7 linked regions of the Homo sapiens genome follow. The protein of the gene in region 4 interacts with the protein of the main gene of each other region in a pairwise test. Each region holds a gene or a part of one and is shown on either strand. Other genes may lie near its edges. The genes, in order: JMY, SHFL, ATP5PO, CCDC136, ZNF20, HDAC4 and HMG20B.

Evidence for each region.
Region 1: the proteins of CCDC136 (region 4) and JMY interact in binary tests that used the Homo sapiens proteins (3 or more experiments, as listed by UniProt).
Region 2: the proteins of CCDC136 (region 4) and SHFL interact in binary tests that used the Homo sapiens proteins (3 or more experiments, as listed by UniProt).
Region 3: the proteins of CCDC136 (region 4) and ATP5PO interact in binary tests that used the Homo sapiens proteins (3 or more experiments, as listed by UniProt).
Region 5: the proteins of CCDC136 (region 4) and ZNF20 interact in binary tests that used the Homo sapiens proteins (3 or more experiments, as listed by UniProt).
Region 6: the proteins of CCDC136 (region 4) and HDAC4 interact in binary tests that used the Homo sapiens proteins (3 or more experiments, as listed by UniProt).
Region 7: the proteins of CCDC136 (region 4) and HMG20B interact in binary tests that used the Homo sapiens proteins (3 or more experiments, as listed by UniProt).

The regions. Positions count from the first base shown.
Region 1 is NC_000005.10:79,238,857-79,243,090, forward strand, and holds part of JMY (junction-mediating and -regulatory protein), read left to right. Parts: intron 1-4,234. UniProt on the Homo sapiens protein: Acts both as a nuclear p53/TP53-cofactor and a cytoplasmic regulator of actin dynamics depending on conditions. In nucleus, acts as a cofactor that increases p53/TP53 response via its interaction with p300/EP300.
Region 2 is NC_000019.10:10,089,118-10,092,064, forward strand, and holds part of SHFL (shiftless antiviral inhibitor of ribosomal frameshifting protein), read left to right. Parts: coding exon of another isoform or gene 1-261; intron 262-361; coding exon of another isoform or gene 362-372; exon of another isoform or gene 373-533; intron 534-539; coding exon 540-578; intron 579-780; coding exon 781-930; intron 931-2,132; coding exon 2,133-2,236; exon of another isoform or gene 2,237-2,358; coding exon 2,359-2,513; intron 2,514-2,947.
Region 3 is NC_000021.9:33,909,096-33,913,329, reverse strand, and holds part of ATP5PO (ATP synthase peripheral stalk subunit OSCP, mitochondrial precursor), read left to right. Parts: intron 1-930; coding exon 931-1,041; intron 1,042-4,118; coding exon 4,119-4,234. UniProt on the Homo sapiens protein: Subunit OSCP, of the mitochondrial membrane ATP synthase complex (F(1)F(0) ATP synthase or Complex V) that produces ATP from ADP in the presence of a proton gradient across the membrane which is generated by electron transport complexes of the respiratory chain.
Region 4 is NC_000007.14:128,801,852-128,806,085, forward strand, and holds part of CCDC136 (coiled-coil domain-containing protein 136), read left to right. Parts: intron 1-2,798; coding exon 2,799-2,910; intron 2,911-3,507; coding exon 3,508-3,673; intron 3,674-3,909; coding exon 3,910-4,050; intron 4,051-4,234. UniProt on the Homo sapiens protein: May play a role in acrosome formation in spermatogenesis and in fertilization.
Region 5 is NC_000019.10:12,130,557-12,134,541, reverse strand, and holds the end of ZNF20 (zinc finger protein 20), read left to right. Parts: intron 1-556; coding exon 557-1,955; 3' UTR 1,956-3,192; downstream 3,193-3,985. UniProt on the Homo sapiens protein: May be involved in transcriptional regulation.
Region 6 is NC_000002.12:239,051,080-239,055,313, reverse strand, and holds part of HDAC4 (histone deacetylase 4), read left to right. Parts: intron 1-480; coding exon 481-565; intron 566-1,712; coding exon 1,713-1,854; intron 1,855-2,177; coding exon 2,178-2,217; 3' UTR 2,218-4,234. UniProt on the Homo sapiens protein: Responsible for the deacetylation of lysine residues on the N-terminal part of the core histones (H2A, H2B, H3 and H4).
Region 7 is NC_000019.10:3,575,462-3,579,835, reverse strand, and holds the end of HMG20B (SWI/SNF-related matrix-associated actin-dependent regulator of chromatin subfamily E member 1-related), read right to left. Parts: intron 4,297-4,374; coding exon 4,176-4,296; intron 3,576-4,175; coding exon 3,529-3,575; intron 3,284-3,528; coding exon 3,211-3,283; intron 2,945-3,210; coding exon 2,729-2,944; intron 1,856-2,728; coding exon 1,723-1,855; intron 1,328-1,722; coding exon 1,315-1,327; 3' UTR 753-1,314; downstream 1-752. UniProt on the Homo sapiens protein: Required for correct progression through G2 phase of the cell cycle and entry into mitosis. Required for RCOR1/CoREST mediated repression of neuronal specific gene promoters.

The sequences.
Region 1 (4,234 bases), on a different chromosome or scaffold from region 4:
GTTTCACCATCTTGGCCAGTATGGTCTCGATCTCCTGACCTCGTGATCCGCCCGCCTCGGCCTCCCAAAGTGCTGGGATTACAGGCGTGAGCCACTGTGCCCGGCCTGAAATGCCCCTTTTAATGGTGTTTATATTCCTAAGATTGTGTTGTTATCTGCTTATGTATATATAATAGTTGAACCTTGTTGTTAGATTAGGGAGCTAGAGCCTCATGTTTTTTTCGTAGAATATTAGATATTTTTCTTTATTAGATTTGAGTATTTAAGAAATGTTTGTTTCTCACTTATACCATAGTACTCTCTTACAACTTCCCGAATCCAGATTTTCACTGCTTCCTGTTGGTTTACTGTATGCTAAATGTCACCCACTATAACATGATCCTAGAGTTCCAGGGATCTGTTTTTATTTCCCTTTTTTATCACCTCACTTCGGGAGTCTACCTTAAATTATTTTGAAGGAAGTGACAAATCTTAAGTGACCACATATATTCTCAGAAGTGTTTGGTTAATATTGACCTGTATTTCTCTTAAACTGCAAGAACCGTTAGTGCTTCTTTCTCTTATTAGATTTACAGATATATTTTTTAAAATACATATTCTTAAAAATCCCTTAATGAATGGGCCTGTCTGATTGTAACTTTTTGGATACTCAGAAAAAGCGACTGTCAGGCCGGTCGCGGTGGCTCATGCCTGTAATCCCAACACTTTGGGAGGCCGAGGCGGGCGGATCACGAGGTCAGGAGATCGAGACCATCCTGGCTAACACGGTGAAACCCCGTCTCTACTAAAAATACAAAAGAAAAAATTAGCCGGGTGTGGTGGCGGGCACCTGTAGTCCTAGCTACTGGGAGGCTGAGGCAGGAGAATGGCGTGAACCCAGGAGGCGTAGCTTGCAATGAGCTGAGATCATGCCAGTGCACTCGAGCCTGGGCGACAGAGCGAGACTCCGTCTCAAAAAAAAAAAAGAAAAGAAAAAGAAAAAGAGAAAAAGCGACTATCTCCGGTTTTTTAATTCAAATGGGTCAAAAATAAGCTCTCAAAAAATATAATTTTCTAGAACTCTTTAAAAAGGGGATTACATTTTTTAAAAAATGTGTTCCTAATTAAGGTTCTCTTGACCATAATGATTTATTTTCTTTAACAGAAAATTATACTTTTTTTCTTTCTTTTTTTTTTTGAGATGGAGTCTCGCTCTGTCGCCCAGGCTGAAGTGTAGTGGCGCGATCTTGGCTCACTGCAACCTCTGCCTCCCGGGTTCCAGTGATTCTCCTCCCTCAGCCTCCTGAGTAGCTGGGATTATAGGCGTGTGCCACCTTGTCCGGCTAATTTTTGTATTTTTAGTAGAGATGGGGTTTTACCATGTTGGCCAAGCTGGTCTCGAACTCCTGACCTGGTGATCCGCCTGCCTCAGCTTCCCAAAGTGCTAGAATTACAGGCGTGAGCCACCGCACCCAGCCTCCCCCCGCCCCCTCCAAACAGAGTTTTGCACTATTGCCCAGGCTGGACTGTACTGGTGCAATCTCAGCTCACTGCAACCTCCACCTCCCGGGTTCAAGCAGTTCTCCTTGCTCAGCCTCCCAAGTAGCTGTGATTACAGTCGCCGCTACCATGCCTGGCTAATTTTTGTATTTTTGTAGTGACAGGGTTTCCCAGTGTTGGCCAGGCTGGTCTTGAACTCCTGACCTCAGGTGATCTAACTGCCTCGGCCTCCCAAAGTGCTAGGATTACAGGCGTGAACCACTGCACCCGGCAACTTCAATATTTGAAAAATAGCCATCAAGGACAACAAATAGTTTCAGTAATAATGCCTATCTTGACTTCTGCTGGAAGATTGTGTCTTTAGATTATATTGGGGGAGGGAGGGAAGTGTGGTGTGATTGATTGGTGATGTCTGCCATGGGCATGATAATGAAAGTGTATAGGATGCTAGCCATGTATTTGTCTTAAGCTAATTAAATTTAACTTTGCTTTCTTAATAGTTTGCAGTAACATTTTTTAAGGTAACATTTTTATAGAAGTTGTGCCATGTTTGTGTTATTCTATTGACTTAGTTTGTGGAATTGGCTATAGCTTTTCAAGCTAGGTTTATCTGATAAATCAAATGCATTCTTGAGGATATGTTACTTTTGAGGATATGTTAGAATGCTTAGTCCTTTGGTCACTTACAATACTTAGTCCTTTTCCTTCTTTAATTTCTATGAATCTATTTTTTGGTCTTTTTTCCTACAGTATTCCTTTCCCTGTCCATTTAAAGGTTTCAACTTAAAATCACCTGTTTTTGTTCAAAATGGTTAGTAAGTTGTTGAACTTTTTTTTGTTTGTTTTTAATAGAACAGACTGTACAACTAGATTGTAAGCTTTTCAAGGTCCTTGGCTTTGACAATACCTTGGAACTCTCTTCTTTGCCACCCCTAGTTCAGGACCACACATCTTGTGAGCACTCTTAATTAGTGGATAAAGGAAACTAGAGAAGTTTTTAAAATTAATTTATTCTTACTATTGCAAGAATTTAAAGGACTTAGAAGATGTGTCCTTTTAATGTGAAGTTGTAAGTAAAATTTTTATAAATTGATAAGTGTAAATTCCTCAAAGGACAGTGTTTTTAAAACGAGAAATTTTCTTTTAGTACTTCAAAGGAAAATTTCTTAAAACATAAATAAATTCCTCAGTAAGAGGTTTTTACTTGGGGATGGTGAATTCCCTGTAAGAGGGGCTATGGATGGATTTTAATGGGGCGTCCTGCCGAGTTTTATATCTGTGGGCATGTGTGCATTTTAGAGAGAAAGGCAATAATGTGAGTCACAGGAATGTTTTGGTTTCACAGTGCGTTTAAAAGTTATGTTTATGCTATAATGTACATTATACTTCTTAGGGGCTAAATCCAAGTGAAAGGTGAAATTTGTTACTGGTATGTTTGAATTTGGACTTTTACAAGAGTTTACTATTGGAAGCAGTATTTATACAGTAGACACTGAATCAGTCCTTAAATGAATGCAGGTGCCACCAAGACCTCTTTGAACAGTTTTCAGCAGTAGCCTTGGTTGTTGGTCAGAGCTGAGGTTTGTATTAGTGTATGTGCGTTGGTGGCCCATACTGCAGCTTAGGTTTGACCTGGATTTTATAAATAATGGTTTCTGTATAAGGACAGCTATTCTCAAGATGATTAACTGTGGTGCTTTAGATAGTAAACCTTAATTATGATGGTAGGCTTGATTAAGATCTAATCATCAGTGTTCATTTTGGAATTTATTATGTTTATAAAGATGTGCTCAATTCTAACTTCTCTTCTGTTGAAACCACGGTTTGGAAGTAGCATGTGTTTTCAAAATTATCCGTGTAAGCCACATAATAAATAGCCTGTTGAGTGAGTGGAGTCAGAAACACCTAGGTTGAAAATAGGACTAACCACTTCTGATGACCTGCTTAGTTATTTAACCTCTTTTAAAAAGGAAGGTGGGGGAAATAAAGGATGTCTTAAGATTTGAGTAAGACAGTATGAGAAAGGGCCTAACAAAGTGCCTGGCACTTACTAAAGAGGCTTCCAGGAAGTGTTATTTTCCCTTTTTTCATGTAACAAGGATTATCTGGTTTTCCATTCAGCCCTTTTTGTGGGGACTGTAACTAATATTTATTATTCACTATCTGCTGAGATCAGTGGGTGTTTTATACCTATTTTACTGAGGCAGAAAATGAGACTTAAAGAGGTCCTGTGGACTTCACCAAGGCTAAACAGCTGAGTAACCAAGCTCCGATGAAAGCCTAGATTTGTCTTAATCCAAACGTGTGCCTTTTCTGCCATGCCTGTGGCCTGTTGGGGTTCTTAATCCAAGGGACTGTATTCCTTCCTTAAAGAGAAAGGATGTCAATCTCTACTCTTGAGAATTGGGGAGTGGTATTATTTTAAAATGCAGTCAGTTCAATAATGACTTTTTTTTTTTTTTTTTAAAGACAGTGTCTCACTCTGTTGCCCAGGCTGGAGTACAATGGCAGTATCTCAGCTCACTGCAACCTCTGCCTTCCAAGTTCACGCAATTCTTTTGCTTCAGCCTCCCAAGTAGCTGGGATTACACGTGCATGCAAACACTCAATAACTGCTTTTGATTTAGGATAACTCATTTCGAATTAATTATGACAAGCATGAGGTAGGGCAGTCTGAATGTGATGTTTTAGAGAAAGGTGTTGCCTAGTGGTGCAAGGATAGGTTTATGTTAGAGAAGAGTGCCCAATTGTGGGG
Region 2 (2,947 bases), on a different chromosome or scaffold from region 4:
AACTGAGGCCGAAGTCACTTGCCAGCAAGCAGGGGCAGCTGCGATTTGAACCCTGGCCACCTGGAGTCAGAGCCTGGGCTCTAACATGCCTGTCAGTGGGAACCCAGGGGGCAGGGAGTGGCTTGCCCAAGTCCCCACAGCTGGAAGTGATACAGCTGGGATTTGAACCCACATCTCTCTCCCACTTAGCCGAGCACAACGTGGCCTCAAAGGGGCGATATGTCACAACATCAACAAGCATGTGGCATTTGCAGGCAGGAAGTGAGTATGGGGGTCAGGCTAGCCTCACTCAGGCAAGCCCTCCCCTAAGCCTCAGTTTCCCCATCTGAGCAATAAGGTAACAGGTGTGCCCACCTCTCAGGGCTGCTATGAGGACAACTGAGGCCACACACCTGGCTCTCAATAAGTGAGTGGTGCTCTGTGAGCTTCTGGCGAGTTAGGGGCACCCTACTCATTGCGGCCGGGGGCCTCCCCCAGCAAACGGGTGGAAAGAGGCCTGAGCCCCATCCCCAGTTTCTGCCCCTGCTATCTCCACCCAGGATCCACCAGAAGATATGAAGCAGGACCGGGACATTCAGGTGAGTTGGTGGCTAGGGCTTGGGATGGGGGAGTTGGGAGGGGGACATCTGCAGGCACAGAAGGATGTCCATTAGGGCAGGAGGGGAGATATTCACTGGGGCAGGAAGAGGACTCGTCTGTAGGGAGAGGAGGGCTGATGCTTATGTTGGTGCAGAAGGGGTGACACCCCCCCACCTCATCCCCACCTGCCCCATTCCACAGGCAGTGGCGACCTCCCTCCTGCCACTGACAGAAGCCAACCTACGCATGTTTCAACGTGCCCAGGACGACCTTATCCCTGCTGTGGACCGGCAGTTTGCCTGCTCCTCCTGCGACCACGTCTGGTGGCGCCGCGTGCCCCAGCGGAAGGAGGTGATGACCTAAAACTTAACCTCGACTTTGACTGTCCCGAACTCCACTCCTGACTCCTATCCTCAGTGACTGTACCTCTGACCTAAGGATTTCAATCACTGAGAGTCCAATCCCTGACCTCCAAACTCAGAGCTCAGCCTTGATCTCTGATCCCAACCCCTGACCCAGGACTGGACTTCTGACCTTAAATGTGAGAAGCCCAATACCTCCTTACCCCAGAACCTGACCCTTGACCCACAATTGAACAGCTACTACAGAAATCAAACCTGGCCAGGCGCAGTGGCTCATGGCTGCAATCTCAGTGTTTTGGGAGGCTAAGTAGGGAGGATCGCTTGAATTTAGGAGTTTGAGACCAGCCTGGGTGACAGGGTGAGACCCTGTCTCCAAAAAAAAATGTGTTTTGAAGACAGGGGGTCTCGCCCTGTCACCCAGGCTGGAGTGCAGTGGCGGGATCATAGCTCACTGCAGCCTCCACCTCCTGGCCTCAGGTGATCCTCCCACCTCAACCTCCCAAGCAGCTGGGACTACAGGCCTGCGCCACCACACTTGGCTAATTTTTGTATTTTGTGTGTGTGTGTGGAGATGGGGTTTTGCCATGTTGCCCAAGCTGGTCTCAAACTCCTGGGCTCAAGCAATCTACCACCTCAGCCTCCCAAAGTGCTGGGATTACAGGCATGAGCCACTGTGCCTGGCAAAAAAAAATTTTTTTAATTAGCTGGGAGTGGTGGTGTGTGCCTGTGGTCCCAACTACTCAGGAGGCTGAGGTGGGAGGATCGTTTGAGCCTGGGAGGTCGAGGCTGCAGTAAGCCATGATCACAACACTGCATTCCAGCCTGGGTGACAGAGCAAGACTCTGTCTCTAAAAAAAAAAAGAAAGAAAGAAAAGAAACCAAATCTGACCTCAAAAACACAGCCCCAAATCTGGCTTCTGAACCTCCTGACTAGTAGTTCACTTCTGGTCAATGCTTAACTAGTTCTTGCAAAAGAGGCAGGAAGCCAAGATGTGTAGTGTTTGCCAATTTCTGTGGTGTAAATATTCCCACCATGGTCAATATCAGGCTACCCACGTGAAGTCACTGATTGAGTTGGGTTGCTCAAGCTGAGGCCAGCCGCTGCAGCACACTGCTAGCCCTGACCCCAACCTCAGACACCTCTGACAATCCTTGGTCCCCTCTCTGTACCTTCCTGCCCACCACCACCAGGTATCCCGGTGCCGGAAATGCCGGAAGCGCTACGAGCCAGTGCCAGCTGACAAGATGTGGGGCCTGGCTGAGTTCCACTGCCCGAAGTGTCGGCACAACTTCCGGTGAGGGCGCTGACCCCCAGCTCCCCCTCAGCCCTGCCCTACCCCAGCCCTGCCCCTCCCTGCCCTGGCCCCACCCTGGCCCAGCCTCGCCCTCGGACCCTCACAGCCCTGCCCGCCCCCAGGGGCTGGGCACAGATGGGGTCCCCGTCCCCCTGCTACGGGTGCGGCTTCCCCGTGTATCCAACACGGATCCTCCCCCCGCGCTGGGACCGGGACCCGGATCGCCGCAGCACCCACACTCACTCCTGCTCAGCTGCCGACTGCTACAACCGGCGAGGTGAGGCTCTTCTCCCCCAACAGCCTGGACAGTCTTTGTCCCCTTCTGTGCCTTTAAGTCCCCAAATCTCCACTCAGTCCACTTTGTCTCCCACAGCAGCAGCCACTGCTTCCACATGGCCTCCATGACCCCCCAGTCTCCGTGGTCTTGCCCAGGAGGCTCTGAGGTTTCACCCCAGTGGCCCGTGCCTGAGGGTCCCCATGGCCTCTGCCCCCATGGTCTCTGGGTTTGGGGCCCCTGTTTTGTCCCCTGTAATCTCAGGTGACCCCCATGTCCCCAGGTCTCCTGTATCTTCAACACCCCTGAATGTCCAGTTGTGCTGGTCCCCGTATCTGGTGGTCTCAGCTCCTCCCTAGAGCCCCGCGTGGCCTAAGTCCCCTCCTCCCCAGACTCTCATGGGACCTCCAGCCCCATGTCTGCAGCACCTCTCCCTC
Region 3 (4,234 bases), on a different chromosome or scaffold from region 4:
GTAAAGGAAAGATGATCATACCAGGTCTGTGTCCTTAATGAGCCCACGTCAGGTGGAATTTAGGAAGATAATTATCCTGTCCCGTCCTCATTACCAGCCCTAAATCTCAAATCAAATGATCAAAATCATTTCGTCCTTCATGTGAGACCTTAAAACTTCATAACAGTGTTAAGGAGTAACTGGTCTTCCCATTTTACAAAAGGGGAAACTGAGGCCCTGGGAAAATTTACCTGAGGTTACTCAGCTTAGTCCTAGAGCTGGACTGGAACTAAATCTTTCTCATCCAAGCCTGAGCTTTCCCACTACAACCATACAGCACCACTAAGAACATGTAGTCATACATTGATGGTAGAAAAAAAGTCTATAGTTTATTGTGAAAAATAATTCAAGCATCAGGTTTTTTTGTAAACTGCCAAAGGGCTCTGTTACACTGAACATCGATAGGGAGGCTATGTAAGGGAAAATGTGTAGTGTTAGTATGAAATGTATAAAAGTATACTTGTGTGTTTCATAAACACCTGTTTTCCTAGCTCTAACATACTCGAAACTGTCTATCAGTGTTCACAACCTCCCATACTTGAAACTAAATAGTTACTGAGTTCAAAGGAAACATAAGCTTATCTCAAAATTAAAGTACAAGTAATTGATAAAGGTATGTAAACCTGGAAGGGACTTTAGACAATGCCTACTAAGCCCCTCATTTTACAGATGAGGAATTGGAGGCTCAAAGATTGAGTGACCTGACCAAGGAAACATCGCTAATTTATTTGCAAATTGCCATTTAGGACAGCTCTTGAATGACATATTTAAACTGTTTTGTGTTAAAGAGATACATTTTTTAAAATATAAATTTTAAATTCTGCTCTTGAGAGTATACTATTAACTGATTTTCCTTTTTCTTTCCTCTCCTATTTCACCTTTTTTTTAAAGCCTCCTGTTCAGGTATACGGTATTGAAGGTCGCTATGCCACAGCTCTTTATTCTGCTGCATCAAAACAGAATAAGCTGGAGCAAGTAGAAAAGGAGTTGTTGAGAGTAGCAGTAAGTAGCTTTCCTATTCATTACATATGAAGTTCCTGTTTGTATATTTTTTCCTTTGGTTGTTTGTGCATTCCTAATGAGGTGTATCCTACAAGAAAAAACTGGGAAAAAGCCATTGTCTGTAAACACATTTTTAGTAATAATATTGGGTTTTTATTATAAGACATATAAAAAGAACAAACAGATACATATAAGGATATTAATATTAGGAACCAAGATTAGGGGCTAAGAAAAGGTAGAAATATAAGATTAAAATGGATGGTAATTTAGGAAAATTGCTATTTCAGAAGAGAATTTAAAAGCTACCTTTAAAAATCTATGCTTATAACTGGGCACAGTGCTCACGCCTGTAATCCCAGTACTTTGGGAGGCTGAGGCAGGCAGATCAGGAGGTCATGAGTTCAAGACCAGCCTAGCTGACATAGTGAAACCCCATCTCTACTAAAAAATACAAAAAATTAGCGGGACGTGGTAGTGAACACCTGTAATCCCAGCTACTCCGGAGGCTGAGGCAGAATTGCTTGAACCTGGGAAGCCGAGGTTGCAGTGAGCCGAGATCGCGCCATTGCACTCCAGCCCCGGACGGTACGAGACTCCGTCTCAAAAAAAAAAAAAAAAAAAAAAAACCTATGCTTATGGGCTAGGTGTTTAGAATATATTGTGATTTGGTTTTACTGAGAATTTGTTTTCATGAAACCTTTTCCTCAGGTTTTAATTGCCATATTCTATGCTTGTAGAATCAGAGGAGGCTCAGATATGTCTTACAGGTTGTTTTCATTTGGTAGAGATGCCTTTGCAATTGCCAGAACCCCAGAAGTAACCATGTAGACCTTTTCATTGTTTTGGTAAACCTCTTAATTATTTTGTTCCCAAAATGTGAGGGAAGAATAACAGGGTGGGGCGCGCTGGGCAGCAGAGTTAGTAAAGGGGCATGGGCTTCCCAGTAGTAGTAGAGGACTGACAGGCAAAGACTGTGAGGCTGCTGCAAGATGTTTTTTACTTTTTTTTTTAAACATGAAAAGCAGAATAAATAAACCGTATTACCAGAAGCCTACATTGTAACTGAATAGGAGAATGTCTGCTTTCGTTTTCACCGAATTTTCTAGTTAACAAGTTTCTACACATTCTGTTGCTTCCTTCGATTTTCTAGCGCCACCACTGGCAGTAAGGTCTGCATTAAAAAAGGTGAGGGAGACGCAGTCTGGTATATAGCCTCTTCAGAGGAAGTTTGGTTTTTTCTTCATTTTAAGATTCTTCATTCTTTAATTCACATATCTGCAAGTTTTTATTGTTTAGAAAAAACAATTCATAGGCCAGTTGTATAGAGTAATAATACTTACGTTCTATATTAATCATCGTATGTATAGTCTATAAGTATTACTGTTCTGTACTGTTTATGTTTTATTCATTTTTCACTTGAGCTTCTATTGGAACTTCCGTCTTAACAGGCAGAATAATTTTAGCTCCATATTCCTTCCTTGATCCATTTATCTCTGCAGATAATGCTTAAGGTCTTAGCTGGTGTGATAAACTCTTATGATTCTCTCAGAGCCCAGGAGCCCAGCCCTGTTGTTGGAGACATTTGGGGGAAGGGCATGCAGGAACAGACGGGGTCTCACACAGGCATTTTTGGAGGTGATGGTTATTGTCTGCTACTTGTCAGTTATGCCCATTTTAAACGGAAACAATCATGTTTACAATGGAGAGAATTACTTGGATTGTGGATATTAGAATAGAGTTTGTCTAAAGCCTGGAAGTCAGTCGAGACATGGAGAAAAAGGGAGGCAATTACCTTAAGACACTGAATATTAGCAGGGTTTTGGCACTAAGAGGGAAGGATGATACAAGGATACGCACTGTCCTCTGGATGATGCAGGAGACACAGATAAACATGAAAAACTAGGTAACCCAAATTCCAGAATGCTTTAAATCTGTATATTCCTGCATTTTTTATGGAAAAATGTCATTTCTGTGGGGTCACTCAAGTGGAAATGTTAGCATTGGATGATAGTATCTGACCAGTATCCTGGATCAGAGGCAGGATTCTGGCCAGGAGCCTGGGAGGAGGTGCTAGGAGCGTAATTGAAAAGCATAGAGAGGTGTGTTAACTGAAGGTGCTCAACTGGAAACTGCTGTTCGTTTGTTGGAACTCTGGAGCAACATGCTGGAAGCTGCACTTGGTCACTGAATTCAGACACTGTGATACAACAAAATGAGAAGAACGTTGTTTCCCATGATGGTTGTGCTCCTGTTTTATTGTCCACTCTGTCTCCCAGACTCTTTGGGGCCGCTCTGGCAGCACCAGAGGCCTCACAGAATCTGCTGGGTTCCCTGGACTCTGTAAGAGGCAGGGCCCCTCCAAGGGAGCGGTGCGGAGGCCTCTGTGGTCAGAGCACAGTTGTGAGGTCTGCACTCTAGAAATAGCACTGCTAGAAAACCAGACGACTCCTCTCTTAAATATATTAAAGTATGCAGTCTAATGAAGGTTTGGCTGTTTAGTGTTTTATAATCTTTCTTGAAAAGCAAAAACAAATTTAAGAAAGTTCGTACAGTATTTTTAAATTTTTTTGAGGAACATCATTCTATATAAAATCCTGGTGCAGTGCACAGTGTATTCTGAAAGGCAGTCAGAAAATTGTTTGATTATAATCTTTTTTTCATATGTTCTTCGGCAGTGCTAATTTAATTCATAAAATATTTAATTCATAAGAAAGTGTTTGTATGGCCGGGCACAGTGGCTCATGCCTGTAATCGCAGCACTTTGGGAGGCCGAGGTGGGTGGATCACTCGAGGTCAGGAGTTTAAGACCAGCCTGGTCAACATGGCGAAACCCCGTTTCTACTAAAAATACAAAAATTAGCGGGACATGGTGGTGCAGCTATTCGGGAGGCTGAGGCAGGATAATCGCTTGAACCCGGGATGTGGAGGTTGTGTGAGCCAAGATTGCGCCACTGCACTCCAGCCTGAGCGACGGAGCAAGACGTTGTCTCCAAAAAAGAAAGAAAGAAAGTGTGTGCATGGCACATCCTTCATTTGTGCTCTAAAAAATTTAAGAAATTATTTTTTGATGCTTTCAGCAAATCCTGAAGGAACCCAAAGTGGCTGCTTCTGTTTTGAATCCCTATGTGAAGCGTTCCATTAAAGTGAAAAGCCTAAATGACATCACAGCAAAAGAGAGGTTCTCTCCCCTCAC
Region 4 (4,234 bases):
GTGTAAGAAATAGCACCATGGAGAGGTACCCTGGGAATTCTTCAGAGAGTCATTGGGTCTTTGTTGATTTGACTATGGGAAAACCCTTCCTGGGAAAATTTCCAGCTCTAGGATGGGCAAAGAGGGACCTGTCACCTTGGGAAACTCTTCCTGCTGCCCTGGCATCATGGTGCTTTGCCTGGAATGCTTTATAGGGGGCCTCTGGCCCTGCTTCCAGGTGCAGGGATGCTAATTCTTAGGTTCCATTAGCTCTCCTCAAAATAGAAGCTTTGGGGGGCAACAAATCGGAACAAAAGACAGCTAGAGAAGAAAAGTTATTCTGAGTGATACATGAGGTACCCAAAAGCCTAGAGCCCTGCTTTCAGACAGTGAGTCTCCCAGCTAGTTGCTAGGATTCATGACATCAGAGAGTTTGCCTTTATTCTGAGGCTAGATTTATAATCTGAGTATAATGGAGGTCCTATATTTGGCCAGGTCAAGCAGAGGCAATCAACAAGGAATCAAAGAACTGCAAGTTTTTCCAGCTGTATCAAGCCTCTCAGAAGAGCCTTTAGATTAAATGGTGCTGGGAGAAGAAGGTTGGCACAGTGGGAAGGCTTGGGCTGGAGTCAAACAGACCTGAGTTCAGTATCTCAGCTCCACTAATTAGCAGGATGAACGTAGGAGGTCTGGTTATGGTCTTTCTCTGAGCCTGTTTCTATATCCAGGATATGAAATCAAAATTGGTTAATAAAACCTTATAGCTAGATGGGATCCTGAAACAGGAAAAGGACCTTAGGGAAAATGTAGAGAAATCCAAGTAAACTATGGAGTTTAGTTAATAGTAATGTATCAATATTTGATTCCTTAGTCATGACAGGTATATCATGGTAATGTAAGATGTTGACAATTAGGGAAATTGGGTGAGAACCCTCCCAGGAAACTCCGTACTACCTTTGCAACTTTTTTGTAAATCTAAAACTATTCTAAAATTCAAAGTTTATTTAAAGAAGAAAAAAACCTTACAGAGCTATTTTGGGAATTAAATGAAATGTGAAGCATGTTGAAATCACTTGCACACTTACCAAATCTGAGGCTGAAACTATCAAGTCTAATGCTTAGCGCATGGTTAGTTTTCATTAAAGATTAGTTTCCTTCCTCCCTTATATGGTAATCTGCAGTATTCTAAGGAATTCTGATTAGAATTAAGAGGAAACATTAGAAGTTACTTTTAGGGTGTTGAATCTTCCAGCAGGTAAGATAGGTCTTGTGTTCTAATTAGAGCAAGTTAGTGTTCTTTAAATATCAGTAGAATTAATGTTCTAAGAGACATAATTCTTTTTCAATTTTTTGCTAGTGGACACAGAGTCTTGCTCTGTTACCCAGGCTGGTCTCGAACTCCTGGGCTCTAATGATCCTTCTACCTTGGCCTTCCAAAATGTTGGGATCACAGGTGTAAACCACTGCACCCGGCCAACATAATTCTTAGTCATGAAGCAACAAAACAGATACAGGTGTTTGTATCATCACAGCCTTAAAAGTGGGCATGGTGACTCATGCCTGTACTCCCACCACTTTGGGAGGCCGAGGCAGGTGGATCACTTGAGCCCAGGAATTTGAAACCAGCCTGGGCAATGTGGCGGAACCCCATCTTTACAAAAAAATTCAAAAATTAGCCAGGCTTGGTGGTGTGTGCCTGTAGTCACAGGTACTTGGGAGGCCGAGGTGGGAGGATCACCTGAGTCCAGGGAGGTCAAGGATGCAGTGAGCCATGACTGTGCCACTGCACTCTGGTCTGGATGGCAGAGTAAGACTATCTCAAAACAAAACAAAACCAAAAAGGAAAAAGTATAGGTATAGGTGACTGGTGCTTAGAGACATGTGCTGGAGTATTTCAACCGGATCTCTTCTAATGCTTGAGGATGATATGTGAGTCTGGTTAGGATGGGCCTGTCAGCAGATAAAAGGCCATTAGAAAGAATTCCTTTTTTTTTTTTTTTTTGAGACAGAGTCTCACTCTGTCACCCAGGCTGGAGTGCAGTGGCACAGTCTTGGCTCACTGTAACCTCTGCCTCCAGGGTTTAAGCAATTCTCCTACTTCAACCTCCTGAGTAGCTGGGACTACAGGCATGCACCGCCACGCCTGGTTACTTTTTGTATTTTTAGTAGAGACAGGGGTTTTGCCATATTGGCCAGGCTGGTCTCAAACTCCTGACCTCAAGTGATCTGCCCACCTCGGCCTCCCAAAGTGTTGGGATTACAGGCTTGAGCCACTACACCTGGCAAGAATTCTTTACCACATCCAGACCAATGTATTTGGTGTGGGAATAAAGAACATAAAAGGAAACTCAGAATGCCTGAAAGGCAGGTACTGGCAGTCACATCTGACAGTTCACATCTCTCAGCTTTTTGTACTAAAAGCATAATTGGAAGGTAATCATAAACAGTTGAATGGAAATTTTACATACAGTAAACTTTTGAAAGTTTTTACATACAGTAAAAATTTGAAAGTTAATTAAACTTTCAAAAATTGCTAAAAGTTCAAGAGTCTGCTTCGGTTGAGGCTTTGAAGATGAGCACACAGGGTAAATCTTCAGGGCAGATGAGAAGAAGGACAGCTATTGGGAAGAGGAGAAAGACTCACTGCACTGTGGAATTTCCTGGGCCCTGTCTTCTAAGCCTCTACCTTTTTTCTGTCTTTAGAAAAAGAGAAGCTCTTTAACCTTCTGCTCTCAGGTTTCAAGACAGGAAAACTGGGGGCTGGTCATCAGTGCTTTCCTTTCCTCCCGGTCTCATCTCTCTCTGCCTGTCCTCTGCAGAAGAACTGCAGGAGCTGCGGGAACGCTACCATTTCCTGAATGAGGAATACCGGGCCCTGCAGGAGAGCAACAGCAGCCTCACGGGGCAGCTTGCAGATCTGGAGAGTGAGAGGTACAGCTGTCTCTGGAGAGTGAGAGGTCATGGGGTTCCACAGGACTCTGCCTTACCTTGGGCTTTCCCTGAAGGCAGATGCCAGGGCAGTGAGCGTTCCTTTGCTCCTGGAGACCCAGTCCTTTCCATGGTTTCCAAAGGATACAGATACCACCTACAAGCAGACATGGGGATCCGACCCAATTATCTCAAGACTAGAGGGAGTGAGTTCTGAAGTTTACTTCTGCTCTAGGCACTGGGTTCTGGTTTGCTCTGCCCTAAAGTGGATCAGAAGAGATTCTTTTATTGTCTGCATAGACTTGTTTCAGTCTAATGGCAGGCACAATGCTTCCAGATTGGAGTGGGCTTGACTAGGCCTAGCCTCAAAACTAACTGGACTGGCACTCTAAGGGTCTCCCAGAGCCAAACACACCTTTGCAGATTGAGGGGCTGGAGACTTTCTGTAGTCTTTTAAGCATGTTTATCTGAGCGGTGAGTCACAATAGAAGGCCCCTTACTATCTTTGGCCTAAAATGAAGGTATCAGGACAAAGCCTGCATGGCTGGTGATGCCAGGCAGAACTCCCTTCAAGCATAGCTCTGCGGTTCTGAATTGCAGGACACAGAGAGCAACAGAGAGATGGCTGCAGTCCCAAACACTGAGTATGACGTCAGCAGAGTCTCAGACTTCAGAAATGGATTTCTTAGAGCCTGATCCTGAAATGCAGTTGTTACGGCAGCAGCTACGGGATGCTGAAGAGCAGATGCATGGCATGAAGAACAAGGTAGGGCACAGAGGGTGGGGAAGGCAGGCACATTTCTTGTCTTTCTTTCACCTTCTCCCAGCCTGTGGTAGAAACATCTCCATAGGCATCCACTGTGGAGGGAGATAGTACTCTGGGGTCTCACTTGCCTGATGTAAATCTTCCAGTCAAAGAGCGCCATGCTTTCCCCAAGCTTGTTCTTGGAGCATATGTGGTATCTGTAGTAAACAAGCCTCCCTGTTCCATTTCCCACATAGTGTCAGGAATTGTGTTGTGAGTTGGAAGAGCTACAGCATCATCGCCAGGTCAGTGAGGAGGAGCAGAGGCGGCTGCAGAGGGAGCTCAAGTGTGCTCAGAATGAGGTGCTTCGGTTTCAGACCTCCCACAGTGTCACCCAGGTAAACACTGCCCGGGGAGGCATCTGGGGTGGGGGCAGAAGGGCCTCATGGAGGGGCTGCTTCAACCGGGGTGGGCACAGTGAGTATGGCTGTGCTCTGCTGACTCTTGCCCTGCAACTGGGCACAGTCTGCTGGAAACCAACTGTAGAAGTCATATAGCACTGCATTCTAGAAATGGTGGTCA
Region 5 (3,985 bases), on a different chromosome or scaffold from region 4:
CATCCCAAGTAGTTGGGATTACAAGCGCACGCCGTCACACCTAGCCAATTTTTGTATTTTTAGTAGAGACAGGGTTTCGCCATGTTGGCCAGGCTGATCTCAAACTCCTGGCCTCAAGCCATCTGCCCGCCTCAACCTCCCATGGTGCTGGGATTACAGGCGTGACCCACCATACCCAGCCAATATAGATCACTTTTTTATTTTTTTATTTTTTTTTGAGACAGAGTTTCGCCCTTGTCACCCAGGCTAGAGCACAATGGCGCAATCTCAGCTCACTGCAACCTCTGCCTCTGGGGTTCAGGCGATTCTCCCAACTCAGGCTCCCGAGTAGCTGGGATTACAGGCACCTGCCACCACGCCCAGCTAATTTTTGCATTTTTAGTAGAGACGGGGTTTCACCATGTTGGCCAGGATGGTCTCAAACTCCTGACCTCAGGTGATCTGCCCACCTCAGCCTCCCAAAGTGCTGGGATTACAGGAGTGAGCCACTGTGCCCGGCCCTATAAGTCACTTTTAATCAAACCGTTAATAATGTGCTTCTCATTTTTCACTGAAGTCTTATGAGAGAGAAACTCTGTGAAAGTAAAGAAAGTCATCACTGTGGAGAAAGCTTCAACCAGATTGCAGATGACATGCTGAACAGGAAAACTCTTCCTGGAATAACACCATGTGAAAGCAGTGTGTGTGGAGAAGTTGGCACGGGTCATTCATCTCTTAATACGCATATCAGAGCTGACACTGGACACAAGTCATCTGAGTATCAGGAATATGGAGAGAATCCATATAGAAATAAGGAATGTAAGAAAGCCTTCAGTTATCTTGACTCCTTTCAATCACATGATAAAGCTTGCACTAAAGAGAAACCCTATGATGGTAAAGAATGTACAGAAACCTTCATTTCCCATTCATGCATTCAAAGACACAGGGTAATGCACAGTGGAGATGGACCTTATAAATGTAAGTTTTGTGGGAAAGCCTTCTATTTTCTCAATTTATGTCTTATCCATGAACGAATTCACACTGGTGTGAAACCATATAAGTGTAAACAATGTGGTAAGGCCTTTACTCGTTCCACTACCCTTCCAGTACATGAAAGAACTCACACAGGAGTGAATGCCGATGAATGTAAAGAATGTGGGAATGCATTCAGTTTTCCTAGTGAAATTCGTAGACATAAAAGGTCTCACACTGGAGAAAAACCCTATGAGTGTAAGCAATGTGGGAAAGTCTTCATTTCTTTCAGTTCCATTCAGTATCATAAGATGACTCACACTGGAGAGAAACCCTATGAATGTAAGCAGTGTGGGAAAGCCTTTAGATGTGGCTCACACCTTCAAAAGCATGGAAGGACTCACACTGGAGAGAAACCCTATGAATGTAGGCAATGTGGTAAAGCCTTCAGATGTACCTCGGACCTTCAAAGGCATGAAAAGACACACACTGAGGATAAACCCTATGGATGTAAGCAGTGTGGGAAAGGCTTTAGATGTGCTTCACAACTTCAAATTCATGAAAGGACGCACAGTGGAGAGAAACCCCATGAATGTAAGGAATGTGGAAAAGTATTCAAGTATTTTTCTTCCTTGCGTATACATGAAAGGACGCACACTGGAGAGAAGCCCCATGAATGTAAGCAATGTGGAAAAGCATTCAGGTATTTCTCTTCCTTGCATATACATGAAAGGACACACACTGGAGATAAGCCATATGAGTGTAAGGTATGTGGCAAAGCCTTCACTTGTTCCAGTTCCATTCGATATCATGAAAGGACTCACACTGGAGAGAAACCCTATGAATGTAAGCACTGTGGTAAGGCCTTTATTTCCAATTACATTCGATATCATGAAAGGACTCACACTGGAGAGAAACCCTATCAATGCAAGCAATGTGGCAAAGCCTTTATTCGTGCCAGTTCATGTCGAGAACATGAAAGAACTCATACCATTAATAGATGAGAAATCCTTTTAGTGGAAGCAACGGGAGAAGCTTTCTGTTGTCCCACTTCCTTTGAAACACAAGAAAAGAGAGTGGTGAAAGAACCTCTGGATAACTGCTTTTTGAATTGAGAAGAGAGACTTGCGATAGGACAATAAAATCTAGAAGAACTTGGATGGTTTCGTAATACAATTCACCTATAGCCAATCTTGCATGAGATTTCAAAGGCACAGAAAAGGAAGGCATCAGTCACATATTAGAGGCCCCACACAGGGAGAGAGGTGTGTGGCTACCCGCTTCCAGCCCATTTTCCTGATTCTTTGGCTTGTTAATCGAGAATATCCCCCAAATCACTTGTCTCTGTTCCTCAGAGTTGTAGGTCTCCAGATATGTCCCCAGTGCTCCACATTAAAGATACATGCCCACTTTGCTGTTTCTTCAGAAATGTTAAAATGTTTACCAGAGAACTAATAAATGTTGTTATGGCTGGAAATACTCACTGATGCCCAACTCTTCTATAGATTGAGTTGGTTTAAGAGGTCTACTTTGTATTGCAAGCATTGTTGTTTCTACGGATTAGCGAGCCTGTTCTTGATTAAACCAACTAGATGGGAGCTTGTTCCTCTGCTGCATTGTGCAGTGATTGGTCTCACCAAGGGCTTTTATGTGAGAAGAGCCACCTTGCTCTTATCAGGAAATTTCAAGCATTTGCTGTTATTCACAACTGAATGTAATGTCTCACTTCGTTTTTAACTTTGTATGAGTATACCTGACTAAAAACACTAATGCGGTTTCTTGGCAACAAATACTTCTGTTCATGTATTTTAGAAATAAGCTTATTAACTGTTTATAACAACTGCATACTAACAATTATTATTTTTTAATGAAGAAGCTACATTACAACCTCCCATTAACATCATGTATTAGATCAAGTTGATAATGTTACCATGTTATCCGGTGGTCACTGTGAGTCAGTGTTGCCATGTGGATGTCAGGCATATTTTTCCTCATGTAGATTTTACTTTTCATGCTTATATTCTTAGTTTTTATCTGGATCATGAATTTTCATCTATTCTAAATACCAAAGGTGATCTCATGTTCTTATGAGTGACTTCTGACCAAAGACCACCAGTGGCATAAGTGTCGTCAAAGAGGGTGTAATAATATACTGTGGTAATGAATATGACCAAAAGCCATAGATGACTGTGAGATGTGTGAGATATTAAAAGATAGTCACATTTCGTGAGAAGAGAAAAATTTGGGGTATGTTTGCAATTTAAAGTGTTTTCTTCTGTCACATTTCAAGACATGGTTAAAGAATGAGGTTTTTTTTTATTTTAATTTTTTTTTTTTTGAGACGGAGTCTTGCTCTGTCGCCCAGGCTGGAGTGCAGTGACTCGATCTCGGCTCATTGCAAGCTCCGCTTCCTGGTTCACGCCATTCTCCTGCCTCAACCTCCCAAGTAACTGGGACTACAGGTGCCCGCCACCGCGCCTGGCTAATTTTTTGTATTTTTAGTAGAGACAGGGTTTCACCATGGTCTCGATCTCCTGACTTCGTGATCCACCCGCCTCGGCCTCCCAAAGTGCTGGGATTACAGGCATGAGCCACTGTGCCCTGCCAAGAATTAGTTATTTTTGTATTGATCCATCATGGTCACTGAAGAGCATCATCTCACATTGCAGGTGTATGACATGTGCCTGTTCAGGGGCAAAAGACTCGGCCTTCTGGCGAGGGGAGGCCAGCCATCAGACTTCTGGACCAGTTTTTACCATACTATTCTCTAAACCCTGATATATTCCCTACAATTTATGGACATTGTTAACCATAACATACCTCAGTTAAAATCTATAAATTCACTTCTTATCAAGGTATATACTATGATTTTATTTATTTATTTTTTGTAGAGATGGAGTCTCCCTGTTTCCCAGGCTGGTCATTGACTGCTGGATCATGTGATTCTTCTGTCTCCATCTCCCCAAGTTCTGGGATTACAGACATGAGCCACCACAATTGGCTACTACTTTTTTAAAAAAATCACCTTGAGTCC
Region 6 (4,234 bases), on a different chromosome or scaffold from region 4:
ATTCCCTCTGAGAGATCTGACTACTTCTTCCATTTCATCTCCCCCGACCCCACCTTCCGCTGCCCTGGAAGAAAACCAAGATCAGGGGATATTCAGACATTCTTACTTATTAATAAAAGACAAAGGAAAGAAAAGTGATGAAGTAAGCGTCACTCCCCCTCATGGAACCCTGTGGCGTCGATGGCAGATACCAAGTTCACGTGCAGGTGCCAGCCCCACTCCTGGGGACTGTCTTTCTTCCTGCTACTTGTAGGAACCCACAAATATCTTATAGCGTCCTAAAAAAAAATCCACTTTTACAAAAAAATTATAAATACCACGGCACATTTGGCTTTTTAAAGTTATTTTTTTCTACTCTGTGGGCAAATGCACCCCACAAGGGTCTCTGTGCTCAGGAAACAGTTGCAGTCTCGGAACACCCGTCTAACGCACGTGTGGATTATATTGGCAGTCTTTATATTCTTATGCATTTTCTTCCAGCTTGATCCTCTCCCAGAAAAGGTTTTACAGCAAAGACCCAATGCAAACGCTGTCCGTTCCATGGAGAAAGTCATGGAGATCCACAGTAAGTTGCCTGGCTGGGTGCTCACAGGGGACACGCCCCTGGGGGTGGGACTGCACCACACCCCATCCCTGTCCCCCTATACCCCCAGCTCTTCTCCATCCCACTGCCGGCTGCTTCCCCAGGCCTGCAGCAGAAGGCCTTGCTTTCAGCTGCATTTCTTGAGCTGGTAGAGACTCACATTTAACCCCGACTGGATTTCCCCCGGCCTGCTGGGATGGTTCCATCAGCCCAATTTGTAAGTCTAGAGAATCAAGGCCCAGACAGTCTCAGTGTGGAGTCACTTGCTCTAGGTCCCCAGCTAGCAGCGGGGGCCATGGCTGTGAGCCTGTACCCTGGGGACTCCGGCCTCTTCCCTGGACCAGAGAAGCCCACGTCCTGACCTCAAAGAACCCTTGGCCCTGCAGAGAGGCAGGGTGTAGGCCCTCTGAGTTCTGGCACCGACCCTCAAGCAGCAGGTCCTGGGTGCAAGGGCGTGGCACGCAGCCTATCTCAGAGGCGCCTCCCACACCCTGTCATTGTCGCAAGCCCAGCTTGTCTTGCCTTTGAGATGACCCAGATGGTTGAGACTGTCCACAGAAGCAGGGGTAGTCCAGAGCTCAGCTCCCCGTTTCCCTGTGTGAGGGAGTCCTGGCTTCAGAGCCCTGAAGCTGACCCTGGGCCAGGCCCAGCCCTCCACATACACCCCCTTGCGCCTGACGCAGTACCCCTCCACCCCCAGCCTCTGTGAGGGCCCAGGCAGAAGACCCCTCAGCCCCAGCGACAATCCCCCAGCTCACCTGCTCCCAGAGATAGGAAGGCTCAACCCAGCAGGCTGGCAGCCCCCTGCCCTGGCCACCCAGGGCAGAAAGGGGCCCGTGAGCGTGGAAAGCCAGGCCTACAGGAGCCTCCCTCTGCAGTCCTAGGTGGGCCTGCTCCTGGAGGGACTCGAGCCACTCACAATGGGGAAACATTTCCAGAGATTTTTTGGGTCTTTGTGAGTTTGTAGCCATGCAGTCTTCTGCTTCGTGTCTCTTCAAAGACGGGTGCTTTTAAAATCATAAGGGATCAATCTGGTTTGAGGCTCAGGGTCCCGCAGGACCTTCCCGGGCCTCAGTGCATCCTGCTAAGTTGTAGTCACTGAGCGACTTTCCTCACCCCACCACCCCAGGCAAGTACTGGCGCTGCCTGCAGCGCACAACCTCCACAGCGGGGCGTTCTCTGATCGAGGCTCAGACTTGCGAGAACGAAGAAGCCGAGACGGTCACCGCCATGGCCTCGCTGTCCGTGGGCGTGAAGCCCGCCGAAAAGAGGTGAGCACCTGCCCTGCCGCCCGCCTGCAGGCTCACCCAGCCCCACTGTGCCCACTGACACACTATTCAGGGTCAGAACCTTTATGGCACATGCCCTGCCCAACAGACTAGAGACAGGCCAGTGTGGCCCCCTCCTTCCAGTGCCAAAGCCCCTTAGAGACGCATGAGGAGCATTAGATCCTGAACAGATGGACCCGGGGCTGCCAGGCCAGGGCTAGGCTGGCGGGTGGGGCAGCACACAGCCTTTAACCCACGTTCTGTTCTCTCCTCTCTGTGGTGCACCTGCCCCACGCCCCCATCTCCTTCTCTTGCGGGATCCACAGACCAGATGAGGAGCCCATGGAAGAGGAGCCGCCCCTGTAGCACTCCCTCGAAGCTGCTGTTCTCTTGTCTGTCTGTCTCTGTCTTGAAGCTCAGCCAAGAAACTTTCCCGTGTCACGCCTGCGTCCCACCGTGGGGCTCTCTTGGAGCACCCAGGGACACCCAGCGTGCAACAGCCACGGGAAGCCTTTCTGCCGCCCAGGCCCACAGGTCTCGAGACGCACATGCACGCCTGGGCGTGGCAGCCTCACAGGGAACACGGGACAGACGCCGGCGACGCGCAGACACACGGACACGCGGAAGCCAAGCACACTCTGGCGGGTCCCGCAAGGGACGCCGTGGAAGAAAGGAGCCTGTGGCAACAGGCGGCCGAGCTGCCGAATTCAGTTGACACGAGGCACAGAAAACAAATATCAAAGATCTAATAATACAAAACAAACTTGATTAAAACTGGTGCTTAAAGTTTATTACCCACAACTCCACAGTCTCTGTGTAAACCACTCGACTCATCTTGTAGCTTATTTTTTTTTAAAGAGGACGTTTTCTACGGCTGTGGCCCGCCTCTGTGAACCATAGCGGTGTGCGGCGGGGGGTCTGCACCCGGGTGGGGGACAGAGGGACCTTTAAAGAAAACAAAACTGGACAGAAACAGGAATGTGAGCTGGGGGAGCTGGCTTGAGTTTCTCAAAAGCCATCGGAAGATGCGAGTTTGTGCCTTTTTTTTTATTGCTCTGGTGGATTTTTGTGGCTGGGTTTTCTGAAGTCTGAGGAACAATGCCTTAAGAAAAAACAAACAGCAGGAATCGGTGGGACAGTTTCCTGTGGCCAGCCGAGCCTGGCAGTGCTGGCACCGCGAGCTGGCCTGACGCCTCAAGCACGGGCACCAGCCGTCATCTCCGGGGCCAGGGGCTGCAGCCCGGCGGTCCCTGTTTTGCTTTATTGCTGTTTAAGAAAAATGGAGGTAGTTCCAAAAAAGTGGCAAATCCCGTTGGAGGTTTTGAAGTCCAACAAATTTTAAACGAATCCAAAGTGTTCTCACACGTCACATACGATTGAGCATCTCCATCTGGTCGTGAAGCATGTGGTAGGCACACTTGCAGTGTTACGATCGGAATGCTTTTTATTAAAAGCAAGTAGCATGAAGTATTGCTTAAATTTTAGGTATAAATAAATATATATATGTATAATATATATTCCAATGTATTCCAAGCTAAGAAACTTACTTGATTCTTATGAAATCTTGATAAAATATTTATAATGCATTTATAGAAAAAGTATATATATATATATAAAATGAATGCAGATTGCGAAGGTCCCTGCAAATGGATGGCTTGTGAATTTGCTCTCAAGGTGCTTATGGAAAGGGATCCTGATTGATTGAAATTCATGTTTTCTCAAGCTCCAGATTGGCTAGATTTCAGATCGCCAACACATTCGCCACTGGGCAACTACCCTACAAGTTTGTACTTTCATTTTAATTATTTTCTAACAGAACCGCTCCCGTCTCCAAGCCTTCATGCACATATGTACCTAATGAGTTTTTATAGCAAAGAATATAAATTTGCTGTTGATTTTTGTATGAATTTTTTCACAAAAAGATCCTGAATAAGCATTGTTTTATGAATTTTACATTTTTCCTCACCATTTAGCAATTTTCTGAATGGTAATAATGTCTAAATCTTTTTCCTTTCTGAATTCTTGCTTGTACATTTTTTTTTACCTTTCAAAGGTTTTTAATTATTTTTGTTTTTATTTTTGTACGATGAGTTTTCTGCAGCGTACAGAATTGTTGCTGTCAGATTCTATTTTCAGAAAGTGAGAGGAGGGACCGTAGGTCTTTTCGGAGTGACACCAACGATTGTGTCTTTCCTGGTCTGTCCTAGGAGCTGTATAAAGAAGCCCAGGGGCTCTTTTTAACTTTCAACACTAGTAGTATTACGAGGGGTGGTGTGTTTTTCCCCTCCGTGGCAAGGGCAGGGAGGGTTGCTTAGGATGCCCGGCCACCCTGGGAGGCTTGCCAGATGCCGGGGGCAGTCAGCATTAATGAAACTCATGTTTA
Region 7 (4,374 bases), on a different chromosome or scaffold from region 4:
ACAGAGGCAGGAAGGGGATTTGTGGGTGCCAGGAGCTGGGGAGGGGATGAGAGTGACTGTTGATGAGGACAGGACTTCCTCTGGGGGTGATGAGAATGCGTTGAGATTAGATAAAGGTGATGACTGCACAAAATTGTGATGTACTAAATGCCACTGAATTGTGCATTTTAAAATGGCTAAAATGGCCAGGCGCGGTGGCTCACGCCTGTAATCCCAGGGTTTGGGAGGCTGAAGCAGGAGGATTGCTTGAGCCCAGGAGTTCAAGGCTGCAGTGAGCTATGATCGGGCCACTGCGCTCCAGCCTGGGTGGCAGAGTGAGACCGCGTCTCCAATAAATAAACAAAATGGCTATGATGGTAAGGTTCATGTTGCGTATTTTACACAATAAACAAAACCGTGGCCCACCCAAAGTCACTGTGCTACAAAGTGGACTTGAACCCCCGTGCGGACACAAGTTGAAGGATGAACTGAGCAGCCGTGACTGTCCCCTGTGCTTCAAGTCCCCCACGTGTGCTGAGCCCACAATGCCCAACTTTAGGTAGGGGAGGGATGGAGACACCTGCCCAGCCATTGACTTGCTCTGTGAACCCCGGCAAGTTTGGGCTCCCGTCTCCCTATCTGAGAAACTCTGAGGCTCTGCTAGAGGTAAAGAGAGCAGGCCTGGCGCCCCCAGCAGGGAATGTCATGGGGGGCCCAGGCTGCACCTTCTGAACCCTCCACACCACCCCAAACAAGCTTACACACTCACAAGCTTAAAACACAAATTTTACTTGTTTTTATTTAAAAAGTCCGGATCCAGCAGTGAGAAGGAGCCACCCCCACCAGGGTCCCTCGGCTGGAGGAGAGCAGGATGGGCAAAGCCGGCCCCCACCCATCTGGGGTACAGGCATGCGGGGGACACCCCAGGTAAGTCCCCACAAGGCAGCTTCCTGTGTGGCCTATGGCACAGCCCCCCGTAGTGAGTAATTTGGGGGGTCCTGCCGTGTGCTGGGGGTGGGTTTCGTCTGCCCTGTGTCCTGGGGGTGGCCCGGAGAGCCAGTGTAGCGCGTGGCTGTCCTCCGAGGAGGGGCACCCTCGGCTGTGAGGTTCTTCTGGGTGTATCGCGCAGCGAGTGCTTTTTCCGGGTTCAGGGGGCTGGGGAGATTGAAAGCTAAAGGGATGCTGCAGAAATTTAATTTTAGGGGGGCTGGAGCCCCCAAGGTGCAGGATGGGACCAGGCCCCAAAGGGTGGACCCCCAGCCTCTCGTCCACGGGGTGGGGTGTGGCAGGGCCGCGCCCACAGCTTCTCCTCTGCATCGTGGGCCCGCCCACTCCTCACAGGTGCTCGCTGAAACGAGAGAGGAGGGCCCGGGATGAGGCCCTCATCATCTCTGGCCCCCACCCCGGCCCTGGGGAACCCCAGAGACCATGGCCCATCAGCTGCTCCAACAGATGCCAGGGTTGGGGGACAGGCGTTGAACCTATCTAACCCGGGCGCTGGGATCCACCCTGAGAAGCTTTAGGGAAGTTCTGGTGCCCCCGAGTGGGTCCCGCCGGCCCGGGGTTCTCCATGGCCATCCTAGCACTGGTGCATCAGGGGCGACCGCAGGTAGGCCCCTCCGGGAGGTGATCTCTAGTAAGCTGCGGAGTCCCACCCAGCAGCCCTCGCGGACCTGGGGAACCCCAGGGCGGGCACATCCGGGCCTTGAACCCCGGCCCCGCCCCGCCTCGCCCGGCACACACCTGGCGACCTGGGCCAGGATTTCCTTGATGCGGACGATGAGCTTCTCGTGCTGGGCGGGGTCGCGCTCGATGGCTCCGTGAAGCCGGGCCATGTAGAAGTCCAGAGTGCCCAGCGTGGGCGTTTCGCCCGTGCCTGGGGGACAGGCGGGAAGGTCAGGCGAGGGTGCCGGGGAGTCGCGGGGCGGGGGCTCCAGGGGCAGCGGTAGGGGGTGACTCAGGGCGGGTCGCGCGGGCGCTCAGAGGTCCGGACACCGCCAGCGCAGGAGCGGCGCAGGGTGGGCTAAGGTAAGCCGGGGCAGGAGGATGGCGAGGACGGGGACAGGGTGGGGACGCGGGGCTAGAGCGGCGGGCGTCCAGGGTCCGCTGAGGACAGTCACGGACGGAGGGAACGAGGTCGGGGAGGTGGGGATGACACCGGGGGGCTGGGGTCGCGTGGGACGTGACTGGGGTGGTGGAGGGGGCTCAGGCGTCAGCGGGGCGTGGGGAGGGATGGGTGACGGGGGCGTGGGGAGGTGGGGTGAATGGGAACGTGGCGTGGCGAGCGGGGAGGCTGGGTCAGTGCTCAGGCTGGTCGGGGGCTGGCGAGGGAGAGGGGCCAGCGACGGTGGGGCCGGTAGGGAGCGGTGGGGGCGCGAAGGGTGGGGGCACAAAGGGGCTGCGGGAGGAAGCGAGTAAGCGGGGACGCGTCGGGAGAGGTCGTGGCCGGGAGGCGCGGTCGGTGGGGGCGAGGTCAGGGAGCCGGCCGAGTAACGGGGCGCGGAGCGGAGCTCGGGTGTGGTCTGGGAAGAACCAGACGGAGCTATGGGGTAGGGGTGCGGGGGTCGGGGAGGAGGCGGAGCTGGGGGTGATGAGGGCGGGGCGATAGGCGGGGCCGGGTGACTGGGGAAGAGGGGACGGGGCGATGGGCGGCGCCGGGCGACAGGGGAAGGGGGGAAGGGAGGAGGGGGGGGGAGGCGGGCGGGGCCGGGTGACCGGGGCGGGACTGGGAGATGGGCGTGGCCCGCACCCGGCACCGGCAGTGAGGCGAAGCTGGCGGTGAGCGCCTGGCGCACGGCCTGGAGCTGCTGCTGCAGCGCCAGCGTCCTCCGCTCCTCCAGCGCCAGCTCCTGCTCCAGACGCTCGCGCGCGCTGCTCATGCTCTGCGTGTGCCTCTGCAGTACCGCGTTCTGCTCCTCGAAGGCCACATTCATCTTCCGCAAGCGCCGAAGCTCCGCCTCACGCGCTGCGCCGGGGGGAGCGGGGTCAAAGCCTGCGCCTCCCCTTTCCCCTACCTCCGGGCTTTTGCCCGGGACGTGCCCCTGCCCAGGTTTCCCTCACTGCGCCCTCTGCCTCCTGCTCCACATCAGCCTCTGGAGCGACAGCGTGCGCCTGGACGCTCATAGGGAACCTCCCGATCCGCCTCCTGCAGTCTTGGGGCCCTCCTGGCCCACGCCCCCCTCTACCACCCAGTTTCACGGAGTTCGCATCAGGAGCGCAGTTACCGCTCACCTTTGTTTTGGTCCAAGAACTCTTCAGTGAAGATGGGAACATCGAAGGTGGAGAAGCCATCGCAGTCCCCACCCTAAGACGAAGGGACAAGGTGGCAATTTACTGGTGGTAGGAGGCAGCCACGCTCTCTGGGTGTGCCCCAAGCCTAGGAGGGTCTCCTGGGACACCCCGGTGGGAGTACAATCAACAGCGATCCCACGGTGCAGTGGCACCGCCCCTGCTTGCACACATCTGGGCGAGCACTGGCTCTGACTCAGGGTTCTAGAAGCCTCCAGACCTTTCTCCCCCAGGTGCTTTGAGAGGAAGAAGGTCGCTTACCTTGTGTCCATTCAGGAGAGTGTTCATGAGCCCAGAGCTCGAGTCTTCTGGCGGGGGAGGGGAAGGGCAGGGTCAGCCTCCCAGGCCTCCAGGGACCACGCCCTGCACCCTAGGTCAGCGCTGCTCAGCCGGCTCCAGCTCCCCACTTGAGTGCCCCGCGTCTGGGCATCCCCCATCGCTGTACCGAGTGAGCCCCCTTCACTCCTGTCTGGCTATGTATCTTTCCCCCGCCCAACCCACGGGACTGTGCCCCACGGAGGGAGGCCCTGCCTGGGCTGAGGTCGCACCCCACAGAGCAGGACCCCAACTGCTCGCACCGGCCCCTCCCACCTTTCATTTTTCTTTTTCTTTTTTTTTTTTTTTTGAGACGGAGTCTCGCCCTGTCGCCCTGGCTAGAGTGCAATGGCGCAATCTTGGCTCACTGCAACCTCCACCTCCCGGGTTCAAGCAATTCTCCTGCCTCAGCCTCCCGAGTAGCTGGGATTACAGGCACCCGCCACCACGCCCAGGTAATTTTTGTATTTTTAGTAGAGGGGGAGGGTTTCACTATGTTGGCCAGGCTGGTCTGACCTCAGGTGATACACCCGCCTCGGCCTCCCAAAGTGCTGGGATGACAGGCGTGAGCCACCGCGCCCGACCCCTCCCACCTTTCTTGATCTTCTTCTCCTGGATCTTCTCCGTGCACATCTTATAGGCTTCAGACTGCTGGTACGCCCGCAGCTCCTTCATGTACTGCTGCTTCTCTCTCTCGGCCTCATCCAGGTACCGCTGGGGGGCAGCACCAGAAGGCTTGAAGCAGGGGAAGCCTCCAACGCCAGGATCCAGTCTTTATCACTCTGCTTTCAC